2 separate regions of the Homo sapiens genome follow, and region 2 is linked to region 1. The links come from fine-mapping of genetic effects on plasma protein levels. Region 1 holds a variant in brackets. A gene starts in the other region. All regions are shown on their forward strands. Region 1 overlaps CLEC4M (C-type lectin domain family 4 member M). Region 2 holds the start of NELL2 (neural EGFL like 2).

Evidence for each region. A credible set is the group of variants that fine-mapping cannot tell apart. PIP is the posterior inclusion probability: the model's chance that the variant is causal. Protein levels are from antibody-based Olink assays in UK Biobank. Linkage for the fine-mapping came from a reference panel and not from the study's own genotypes, which makes the PIPs less certain.
Region 2: it holds the start of NELL2, and the variant in region 1 is the best candidate, but not a certain one, in a credible set for the plasma level of the NELL2 protein (UK Biobank, PIP 0.64).

What each region holds. Positions count from the first base shown.
Region 1 is chr19:7,764,324-7,769,695 of GRCh38, forward strand. CLEC4M (C-type lectin domain family 4 member M) reads left to right here. Exons shown (of 7, transcript NM_014257.5): 3 at 862-945; 4 at 1,315-1,884; 5 at 2,333-2,484; 6 at 3,193-3,305; 7 at 4,515-5,282. The coding sequence ends at 4,665. Among named protein-coding and RNA genes, the nearest start is that of CLEC4M, 3.8 kb to the left of the region's middle. The variant G/A (reference allele first, on the strand shown) is at 2,419.
Region 2 is chr12:44,874,045-44,879,416 of GRCh38, forward strand. NELL2 (neural EGFL like 2) reads right to left here and starts at 2,271. Exons shown (of 20, transcript NM_001145108.2): 1 at 1,771-2,271; 2 at 1,181-1,309. The coding sequence starts at 1,825. RefSeq lists enhancers at 2,394-2,895, 2,896-3,395.

The sequences.
Region 1 (5,372 bases):
TTTTACAACTTGAGTTTATCTGCCTAGTGACCTTGCAGCTGCACAGCTAGAGAAACAGGGTCTTCACAATGCCTGGGAAAGGGAGAGATAAGGCTCACTAGCCACACACAGAAAAACAGGCAGTTAATTCTTTTTTATTTTATTTATTTAGTTTTTATTTTTATTTATTTATTTATTTTTTTTGAGACAGAGTCTTGCTCTGTCACCCAGGCTGGAATGCAGTGGCGCCATCTCGGCTCACTGCAAGATCTGCCTCCCAGGTTCATGCCATTCTCTTGCCTCACCCTCCCGAGTAGCTGGGACTACAGGCGCCCACCACCACCACGCCCGGCTAATTTTTTGTATTTTTAGTAGAGATAGGGTTTCACTGTGTTAGCCAGGATGGTCTTGATCTCCTGACCTTGTGATCTGCCTGCCTCAGCCTCCCAAAGTGCTGGGATTACAAGTGTGAGCCACCATGCCTGGCCAAAAAGGCAGTTAATTTTTAAAGGATTCCACCTCTTTCTCTTCCTCAGGGGGAATTGGGTTTTCTTACATACAACTGAGTTTTTGCTTACACATTCTTTAATTTCTTTTCATTCCTGTTCCACTGGGGAGGTGGACGCAGGTACCTGGGTTCCTGGGACCTGGGGAGGTGGGGGTTGGGACCTAAACTCCTGGGACTTGGGGAGGGAGAGGCTGGGGATGGGGTTCCTGGGTCCTGGGGAGGTTAGAGCTAGGGCCTGGATTCCCAGGTGTTGGAGTGGAGGGGGCTGGGGCTGGGGTTCCTGGGTCCTGGGGTGCTGAGGGATTAGGCCAGGCTCTCCCTGGGCCAGGCTCAGGTGGGAACACTGGCAGGCTGACGCATGTATCCTCTCTCAGGGTGTCTTGGCCATGGCGCCCTGGTGCTGCAACTCCTCTCCTTCATGCTCTTGGCTGGGGTCCTGGTGGCCATCCTTGTCCAAGGTCAGGGGCAGGTTCTGAGGGTCTGGGGTCCCCAGGCCTGGCCTTTTGGCTATGAACAGAGCCTGGAGTGGCCAGGTCTGGGAGGGAGGTGGGACTGAGAGCCAAGATGTTGTCCCTGGGGGTCTGTAGGGGCCTCTCCCACAGCCCCTCCCCACTCTAGAGCAGGACAGGAGAGGGAGGAGGAGGAGGGGAAGAACCTGGCTCTCCTTGGCCTTCTGTGCTGCCTTCTCCAGGTGTCAGTTTTCCTCATCTTCAAAGGGGATTAACTGAGACCTTGGCTCTCACAAATGATGTCTCTATGGGGCTCAGTTCAGGGCTTGGCACACAGTAGGTGTTTAATAATTGCAGTTCCTTTTCTTCTTGGCCCAGTGTCCAAGGTCCCCAGCTCCCTAAGTCAGGAACAATCCGAGCAAGACGCAATCTACCAGAACCTGACCCAGCTTAAAGCTGCAGTGGGTGAGCTCTCAGAGAAATCCAAGCTGCAGGAGATCTACCAGGAGCTGACCCAGCTGAAGGCTGCAGTGGGTGAGTTGCCAGAGAAATCCAAGCTGCAGGAGATCTACCAGGAGCTGACCCGGCTGAAGGCTGCAGTGGGTGAGTTGCCAGAGAAATCCAAGCTGCAGGAGATCTACCAGGAGCTGACCCGGCTGAAGGCTGCAGTGGGTGAGTTGCCAGAGAAATCCAAGCTGCAGGAGATCTACCAGGAGCTGACCCGGCTGAAGGCTGCAGTGGGTGAGTTGCCAGAGAAATCCAAGCTGCAGGAGATCTACCAGGAGCTGACGGAGCTGAAGGCTGCAGTGGGTGAGTTGCCAGAGAAATCCAAGCTGCAGGAGATCTACCAGGAGCTGACCCAGCTGAAGGCTGCAGTGGGTGAGTTGCCAGACCAGTCCAAGCAGCAGCAAATCTATCAAGAACTGACCGATTTGAAGACTGCATTTGGTGAGTTCCTGCACATCAAGGGTCCTTGGGCCTGAGATGGTCTCTGTGTGATGTGACTTTACTTGAGTTACCAACCCTGCCTGAGCCTCAGTTTCCTCCCCTGTGAAATGAGAACACGGGGTAACTGCGATCATTGCACTTGGTGTTCACAGTGGGCCAGGCACACAGTAGACACTCAGTTCAACCAATCCGCTGCCTTCTGTTCTGAGCTCTAAAGCTGCTAATTCTCCCAGTCTGGAAGAGATGGAGCCAGGACTCCTGGGTTCTCCTGGGGATCAGGGAGAGTCTTGGGAAGTAGGGAGAGGAATGGTCTCTCCCCATTCCAAGCGGTCCACCCAACATGGACAGTCAAGGAAGGGCCCTGATTTTCAAGGGCTTGAAGGCTGGGCAGATATGGGAATATGGACAACCTAATCTGAGCCCAGCCCTGACCAGCCTCCCCCAACAGAACGCCTGTGCCGCCACTGTCCCAAGGACTGGACATTCTTCCAAGGAAACTGTTACTTCATGTCTAACTCCCAGCGGAACTGGCAC[G/A]ACTCCGTCACCGCCTGCCAGGAAGTGAGGGCCCAGCTCGTCGTAATCAAAACTGCTGAGGAGCAGGTACACGTGGTGGGGGTCCTCGTCCTGGCCTGGGGCATGGCTTCTGGCCAACTGGGGAGGAGGTGCTCAGAGAGGATTTTGCAGAAGAGGGGCTTTGCTCTATTTGGAAAGATGGGAAGAGAAGGATATGAATGAAGGGGTCCCAGGTACCCTTCAAGCAAATACAAACCAGATCTGAACACATGTGAATATTTGGGGGAAACGTCAAATGTAAGCAAACCACCACAGCATGCTGCAGGTGTTTAACGGCCAGCTCTCCGGAGAGAAAATTCCTGATGTGTTGTGTTTGCCAATTTCCCCAGTGTAAATATTTCCACTGCGGCTGATTTCAAGCTGTGATGTGCTGTCACTCAGTGCAGAGCTGAAAGGAGATGTGCTGGACCAGCAATTAGTAGTGGGTCCAATGTGGCTCCAGTACATGAAACCCAGTCAGGAGTAAATTCATGTGGACATGCAAAATAGATAAACATGCAGCATTCACAGGAGCACATGAGGAGAGGCCAGCTGTGCATGCGTGCCTGCATGTCAGGACACACATGCCATGGGGATACAGATGTGAGAGGGGCTCAGACATGAGGAGGCTCAGGACCTGCTATATCAGAAAACTGCAGGTTAACTTGAAAGCAGAACTTTCTGCCAAGAGACGGGGAGGTGGAACCTGGAAAATGGGAAGCAGAGCTCCCTCCTGACTCCTCCTCTACCCTCCAGAACTTCCTACAGCTGCAGACTTCCAGGAGTAACCGCTTCTCCTGGATGGGACTTTCAGACCTAAATCAGGAAGGCACGTGGCAATGGGTGGACGGCTCACCTCTGTCACCCAGGTAGATTCTGGGAGAAAGGGACACTGTATCCAGTCGGGCTGGGTTCCTGCAACTCTGACTTGAGCTTTCCCTGGGGGTCCCCCCCAACCTCCCTGACCCCATAGGACTAAGAGTCTGGGGTTTTACTGAGTTGAGGAAGGTGGTCTTCATACCCACCTCCAGACAGGATGAAAGGTGCCAAGAATTCCACCAGCAGAGCTGCAGGAGGAGCTTGCCCTGTGGGTAGGTGTGTTAAAATACAGTGTATTAATAGGAAGTCTGAAGTCTAGTAAGGCCACCAGCTCAGGAGACAATTGCCATTTACACAAAGTGAGTAGCTTATCCTACCCACAGGTTCCTAGAGGGCGCACATTTCACAGCAGGGGGCCGCTGGGGAAGCAGCAGGGTCTGTCGTGAGGGAAAGTCATGGAGGGGACTGTGGGCCAGAGCTTTTATTATGGTTTGCATGGGGAGAAAAGGGCAAGGCCAGGCAAGCAGGCTTCAGATGGGCAGATATGAAGCATTTTGTGGGCTCTGGGGCATAGAGGCTGCCTAGCGGCCTGACACCTGGCCTTGGGGTGATTAGGGCAGAAAGATAGTGGCTTGGAGTGCAAGAGCCCAATAAGGCAGGTGGTTGGCAGTACAGACCCCAGACTGGTTGGTTTGTATTTTAAAATCACACTCTCGGCCAGGCGCGGTGGCTCACGCCTGTAATTCCGGCACTTTGGGAGGTCAAGGCGGGTAGATCACGAGGTCAAGAGATCAAAACCATGCTGGCCAACACGGTGAAACCCCGTCTCTACTACAAATACAAAAATTAGCTGGGTGTGGTGGCGTGCACCTGTAGTCCCAGCTACTCAGGAGGCTGAGGCAGGAGAATCACTTGAGCCCAGGAGGCGGAGGTTGCAGTGAGCCGCCAAGATCATGCCACTGCACTCCAGCCTGGCAACAGAGCGAGAATCTGTCTCAAAAAAAGAAAAAGAGAAAGAAAAGAACAAAGGATAAAAAAGAAAATCACAGCCTCAGTAGGAGTCCTCCCAAGGCTGGGATGCAGCAAGAGAGGCAGGAACTGAAGGCAACATGACTCGGGCATATTATGAGGTGTGGAGAGCAATGCATGTCCAGCATACACATGTAGGGCAGATGTTAAAGCATCAATATTACAGAAGGTAGGAGTGTGGCTCATCTACTGGGCAGGGCAGAGGCTCACATTCTGCATGGGCTTTGCAGCTTCCAGCGGTACTGGAACAGTGGAGAACCCAACAATAGCGGGAATGAAGACTGTGCGGAATTTAGTGGCAGTGGCTGGAACGACAATCGATGTGACGTTGACAATTACTGGATCTGCAAAAAGCCCGCAGCCTGCTTCAGAGACGAATAGTTGTTTCCCTGCTAGCCTCAGCCTCCATTGTGGTATAGCAGAACTTCACCCACTTGTAAGCCAGCGCTTCTTCTCTCCATCCTTGGACCTTCACAAATGCCCTGAGACGGTTCTCTGTTCGATTTTTCATCCCCTATGAACCTGGGTCTTATTCTGTCCTTCTGATGCCTCCAAGTTTCCCTGGTGTAGAGCTTGTGTTCTTGGCCCATCCTTGGAGCTTTATAAGTGACCTGAGTGGGATGCATTTAGGGGGCGGGCTTGGTATGTTGTATGAATCCACTCTCTGTTCCTTTTGGAGATTAGACTATTTGGATTCATGTGTAGCTGCCCTGTCCCCTGGGGCTTTATCTCATCCATGCAAACTACCATCTGCTCAACTTCCAGCTACACCCCGTGCACCCTTTTGACTGGGGACTTGCTGGTTGAAGGAGCTCATCTTGCAGGCTGGAAGCACCAGGGAATTAATTCCCCCAGTCAACCAATGGCATCCAGAGAGGGCATGGAGGCTCCATACAACCTCTTCCACCCCCACATCTTTCTTTGTCCTATACATGTCTTCCATTTGGCTGTTTCTGAGTTGTAGCCTTTATAATAAAGTGGTAAATGTTGTAACTGCAGATCCAGCCTCATCTGATTCAACTTTGTGTAATAAAATGGCGAGTTGCTTTTCCGTTGCCATAGGCCCCCAGGTTGCAAGTTATGTGCAC
Region 2 (5,372 bases), not on the chromosome of region 1:
TCCTCCTTTCCCAACTCTAAGCTTTGGTTTTAGTGTCCATGGTGACACATACTGGCTATATCAGGCAACAACACCACTACAGAAACACTCAAGTTTTATTTTATTTCTATTTCTTGGTAGCATATTTTCCGAAGTGGTTTCCTTTTGCATATCCAACTCTTTAGTAATTATGAATTGCACTTTCAAAGCCATGGCACCAAAATAACAACAACAACAACAAAAATCTGGGTGAGGTAGGGCAAGAAGCTTTAGTCCATTAGATATGTTAAACCAAACTCCATTCTCTTTTGCCTTCATGTATTCTTCACCATACATGAATCTAGTCTGTCTGTACACGTTTAGCTACCTTTTAGAAGCTCTTATTACGGCAACTTTCCACAAACAAGCAATCCTCAAAAGCTCTAATCAAAGTTGAAGGTTTGCTGCATTGGAATTTGCTTCTGACTGCACAACACATTTAAATATAATTTGAGATGTAGACATTTGTGCCCAGCCAATATCCATTGACTTCAAAAAAAAGTTGTAAAATCGTAAGTACACAATTAATGATAATATGAGATACACTTCTAGATTAACATTTACTTGAAATCTTTCCAAAATACTTTTGAGACCATTATTCCCTTTCTCTTGTTATTGGTGGATGAAGGAAGAATGAGGGTCTTTCAAAGATAAATTTTGCCTCAAATATACTGCGACTGTGATATGCAGTAAGTAAAAATATTCAGAGGCATTAATTTTTCCAGAAAGCTACCCCCATAAAACAATTCCTCCAAGCAGGGCACCATCGTACCTGAAACTTTCAGAGATCAGTGTCTTAACTAAGATTAAGCTATCCTTTTTCCTACCTAAATCAATTTCACCCAAACGAGGCGTTTGTGTTATAATTCATTGTTCCCCAGATTCTAAAATCAACCATCTGCCATAGGAGTTTCTGCTCAGTAATTAAGGGACTATCCATTAGAACTGGCAAGAGTACAAAGTACGAAGGAGAAGGGTGAGGCAGGGGAGAAAAAACCACTTAAAAGAGATAGGGATATGTGTCTCACACTGGCCCTTCTACACCTCAGCTAAAGTACTGTCATCCATGAGGCAATACAAAGTTAGGACAAGCGGCAAGAGCAACTCCTGCCGGGGTTATCGGAACTGAAATCACAGTGGGGATGCAGCACGCCGGGCATACCTTGAAAGAGAAAGGCTTTCGTCCCATTATGCAGCCCCGGGACCTGACGCACTCCGGTCGTGGACTCCCCAAGTTCTAACTCTGTTAAGACGTCAATCTGTAGGGAAGGGTCCACACCAAGCCCCCAAACTGGTGAGGGGTATGAGGTGGGAGAGAGAAAAAGGAAAAGCTCCATCAAAATGCAAGTCTCTTCCTCCAGGGCAGCAAAGAACCGCGTTTTCGCGACAATATTGGGAACTGAAGATGAGAGGCGACTGCCTCCTCCTCCGCCGAGAGCCTTACCTGAGATCAGCAGCCAAGCTTTAAATAGCGGAGCACCCAGTCCCGTTTCCATGACCTCCTTTAAACCCTTCTCTCTGCAAAGTTCCCCCTCAGCCCTCCGACCCTGGACTAGGGGCGTGATCCGCCTCGCGGTCTCCAAGGCAAGCACAGAAAAAAAAAAAATCCATATCCAAACCCGCCCCCTTACTCCAAGCTTCCCACTCCAGACCTACTTTGGGTCCGGGAAAAGCGAGGCTTCCCCAGCCAGCCCATGCTGCCCCGAGGCGGGAGCCATCCCTTTCCCCAGCCCCAGCTCTGCGGCCACTCACCTGCTCCGAGACCGAAGATCAAACAGAATGTTCTCAGTAAGACCCGAGACTCCATGGTGCGGATCAGCTCAGTCCATCGTCTCCCTCTTTAAAAATAAAAATAAAAATCGAAGAGGTTCTTGGAATCAAGCGGGAAAATAACGTTTGTCTCTCCTGCTGCTGCCTCGGATTTACTGATCAGTAGGATTAATACGCTTTGGTTGCCTAAGAAAGAAAAGGGAGGCCTCCCCAGGCGCGTGAAGAACTTAGACCCTCCAATGCGCACATCATTCCCACACGCAGGGCCGAGGCGGCAGCGCGGCCCGGAGGGGGCCCGGAGGGAGGGGTCGGACTCGCCCCGGCGCGGCTCCGTCGGGGAATTAGCTCCCGAGCCGAATAAAAGCAGCCAAAGACTCGCACACCCGGTAGAAGGGGGGCGGCCCCAAGAAAGCCCGGGCTGGGGCGGCCCCGCACCCCCCCGTCTTCCCCGCCGCCCGAACCTGTTGTAAAGGCAGAGACAATGGAGAAAGCTCCGGGAGACGCGCGGAGAGACTGCTCCTCCGGGGAGGGAGGGGCGGGCCGGGGGAGGCGGGGTAAGGAGGAGGGAGGGGCCGCCGAGGGCGAGGCCGGCGCTCAGCGTCGGTCTCCCGCACGGTCTCCTGGATGCCAAACCCGGTCTAGGGAGCCCAGGAGCCGTTGCAGCCTCAGCTCTTCTCCCTCCCTCTCTCGATGACCCGGGCAATGCCAACCTCCTTTCGGGATTGAAAGCTCTAAATCCAAGGTGCTAAGTTGATGGGCGGTCTTTGCTCTCACCCCTCGATTTCGGGCGCGTGTCTTGAAAGACAGGAGAGAAAAAAGACCACCCAGCTGCAGGAGGCAAGGCTGGAGCGAGTAGCGCTCGCCTGCCCTTTAAGCAAAGGAGGGAAGCCCATGTGCACTCGTGCACTGGGCTCCGGAGCAGCCCCGGGGTGCAGGGCACTCCCCCTCCAGGGCGTGCGGAGGAAGGCCACCAAAACACGCTGCACTGCCGAGGTGGAGCTGGGCAAAGTAGGTAGAGACTGGTGGGGACGGATGGCGAGCCTGGGAAGCCCCGGGTGTCCTGGTGGAGAGGTTCCCTGCCGGGGGCGGGGCGCTGGAGAGCTTCCCCGGCGCGGAGAGCTTCCCGGGCGCGGAGAGCGCAGAGAACTTGGCCAGGAGGTGCTGGACAGCTCCGGAACCCGCGCGCCCCCTGCCAAATAAAGCGTGGAGACCCGGACTCGGGCTCTCTGGGACCAGCATACAGCAGAAGGCAAGGGGAACTGAGCCAGGGCGTCTGTTCACGCCGAAATATCTACCTACATAGAGGAGATGGTTAGAGAGAGAGAGAGAGAGAGAAATAAATAAATACGTAAATAAGCAGAGGGAGGAGATGGAGCCCAGGCGAGAGAGAAGAGCCATCCCACTGTTGACCACACTCATGCAGGCTCTACCTGCCCTTCACCACATATGTCCGGGACCATAAAAGTGGTGTCCTTTGAGATCCATTTTTCAGCAGGCACATGTATGTTCAAGATCAATGGTACATAATATTTTTTGAACATAGCCCTAAAATTTTTAGGTAAATTTTGAGGAATGGCATTCCACTTTCATTTTGGAAAAGTTAAGAGTTTAAAAAACCATTATGGTATTAATCTGTACAAAGATCAATTGGGTTTCTTAACCTTCCATGCAAACATGTGGGTACTGAATTCTCCAACTGGATACTAACAGCTACAGTTACCAAAATGCCTACTGGGTAGTCTGAGCCCCCTGCAAGGCAGGAGTATAATATACATTTTATCTATAGATATATAGTTATAGATATTATCATATAGTGGAATACATATACTATATTATACTATAGGGAAAGAGGTATTTTTAGATCTGCCCTTAGAATTTTTAAGACAAAAGATTCAGAATTCGGGAGCTCTTTTAAATTAATTTTTAATTCTCTCTTATCGAATTTCCCATTTAATTCTATTTGTAACTTTGTAAAGTTTGAGAAATATTTCAGTACTTACAAGTGATAAAGGATTGTCATATGCAATTTCCCAAATTTGAAAAACTATGCCAAATAAATAATACAATTTAATTAATCAATGAAAAGAAATTAATCATCAGAGAATTAAAGACCTTTCTACAGCTGTGCATCTAAAATATTCAATTGTAATAAGTATCTACAGAAGCTACACGAAATAAATTTTAAATAACGTAGCATTTAAAATGCTATCATTAGAGAAAAGAATAAAACATAAATATACATATGCACATATATATTTCCACATAAAAGTCCTCCTAACCAACCTGTGTTCAACCAACTCATGAAAGTAGGGATACTCTCGAGTTTCTCTGACTCTCATCCATATGCTGAAAGCTGGTGGTTAATGGGCTTATCTCCAGTACCATACACACTGAGGCTCCCTCCAGAACAGTGGTATTTGGTACCCAAAATAATTCTAGTTGAACCTGCTACTGTAATTATTTGACCTAATTAAATAGTATGGAAATCATTAAAATATGAGTATGGGGAGGTGTGAAGAGTTGTTTCTCTAAAACTAAGGTATAAGGTTTGGAAACCCATAGTAAAGGTGAGCCATTGTATTAGCTAGGGCAGAGTTTCTCAACCTGGGCAGGAGTTTTCAACATTATAACTACTAACATTTTGGGGCTGGATAATTCTTTATTGGGGCTGTCCTGTGCCTTGTAGGATGTTAGTTGAATTCTTGGTCTCTATCCACTGAATGCCAGTATTTTCAGTATTCCATTTTATCTATGTGTTCTTTTGACTATATCTCTTTGTGAAGCTTTTAAAATTGGTATTCTAGGGAATACAATATACATACTTAACTTTTCACCTTCTACCTAGAGTCCATACATTACCACTTCAGTTCGAATACAGAAGCTTTACTACCACATCAAATCCCTTTATCCTCAACTCTTTAGGTTGTAGTTGTCTTATGTATTATATCTACATACACTCAAACTCCTTTTAGACAATGTTAAAATTTTGCTTGCAATCATTGTTGTAGGCATAATAATATTCCAATCCCCTTCCCCTTAAGAAACAGTCTTTTCCAGTTCCTAATCAGTGGAACCTGTGTATGTTACCTCACATGGCAAAGGGGATTTAAGGTTGCAGATGGAATTAAGATTGTTAATCAGGTAACCTTAAAATAGGAAGATTATTTCAGATTATCTGGGTATGCCCAATATAATCACGAGGGCCCTTAAATGTGGAAGAAGGAGGCATAAGAGGAGGTCAGATTAATGCAATATGAGAAGAACTCGACTTCCTGTTGCTGACTATGAAGATGGGAAAATATAGAAGGGCTATGAGACAAGGAATATGGGAGGCATCTAGAAATTGGAAATGGCAAGGAAAAAGATTATCCCTTAGAGCCTCCAGAAAAGAATACAACCCTGCTGATAACTTGACTCTTGCCCAAAAAAGTCAAGACTGTTTTAGACTTCTGAACAACCATCCGTAAGATAATAAATTTGTGTTGTTTTAATCCACTAAATTTGTGGTAGTTGGTTACAGCATCCACGGAAAACTAATATAAGTACTGACTACATGAGGAAAAGTTCAGTAAACATGGTTGACT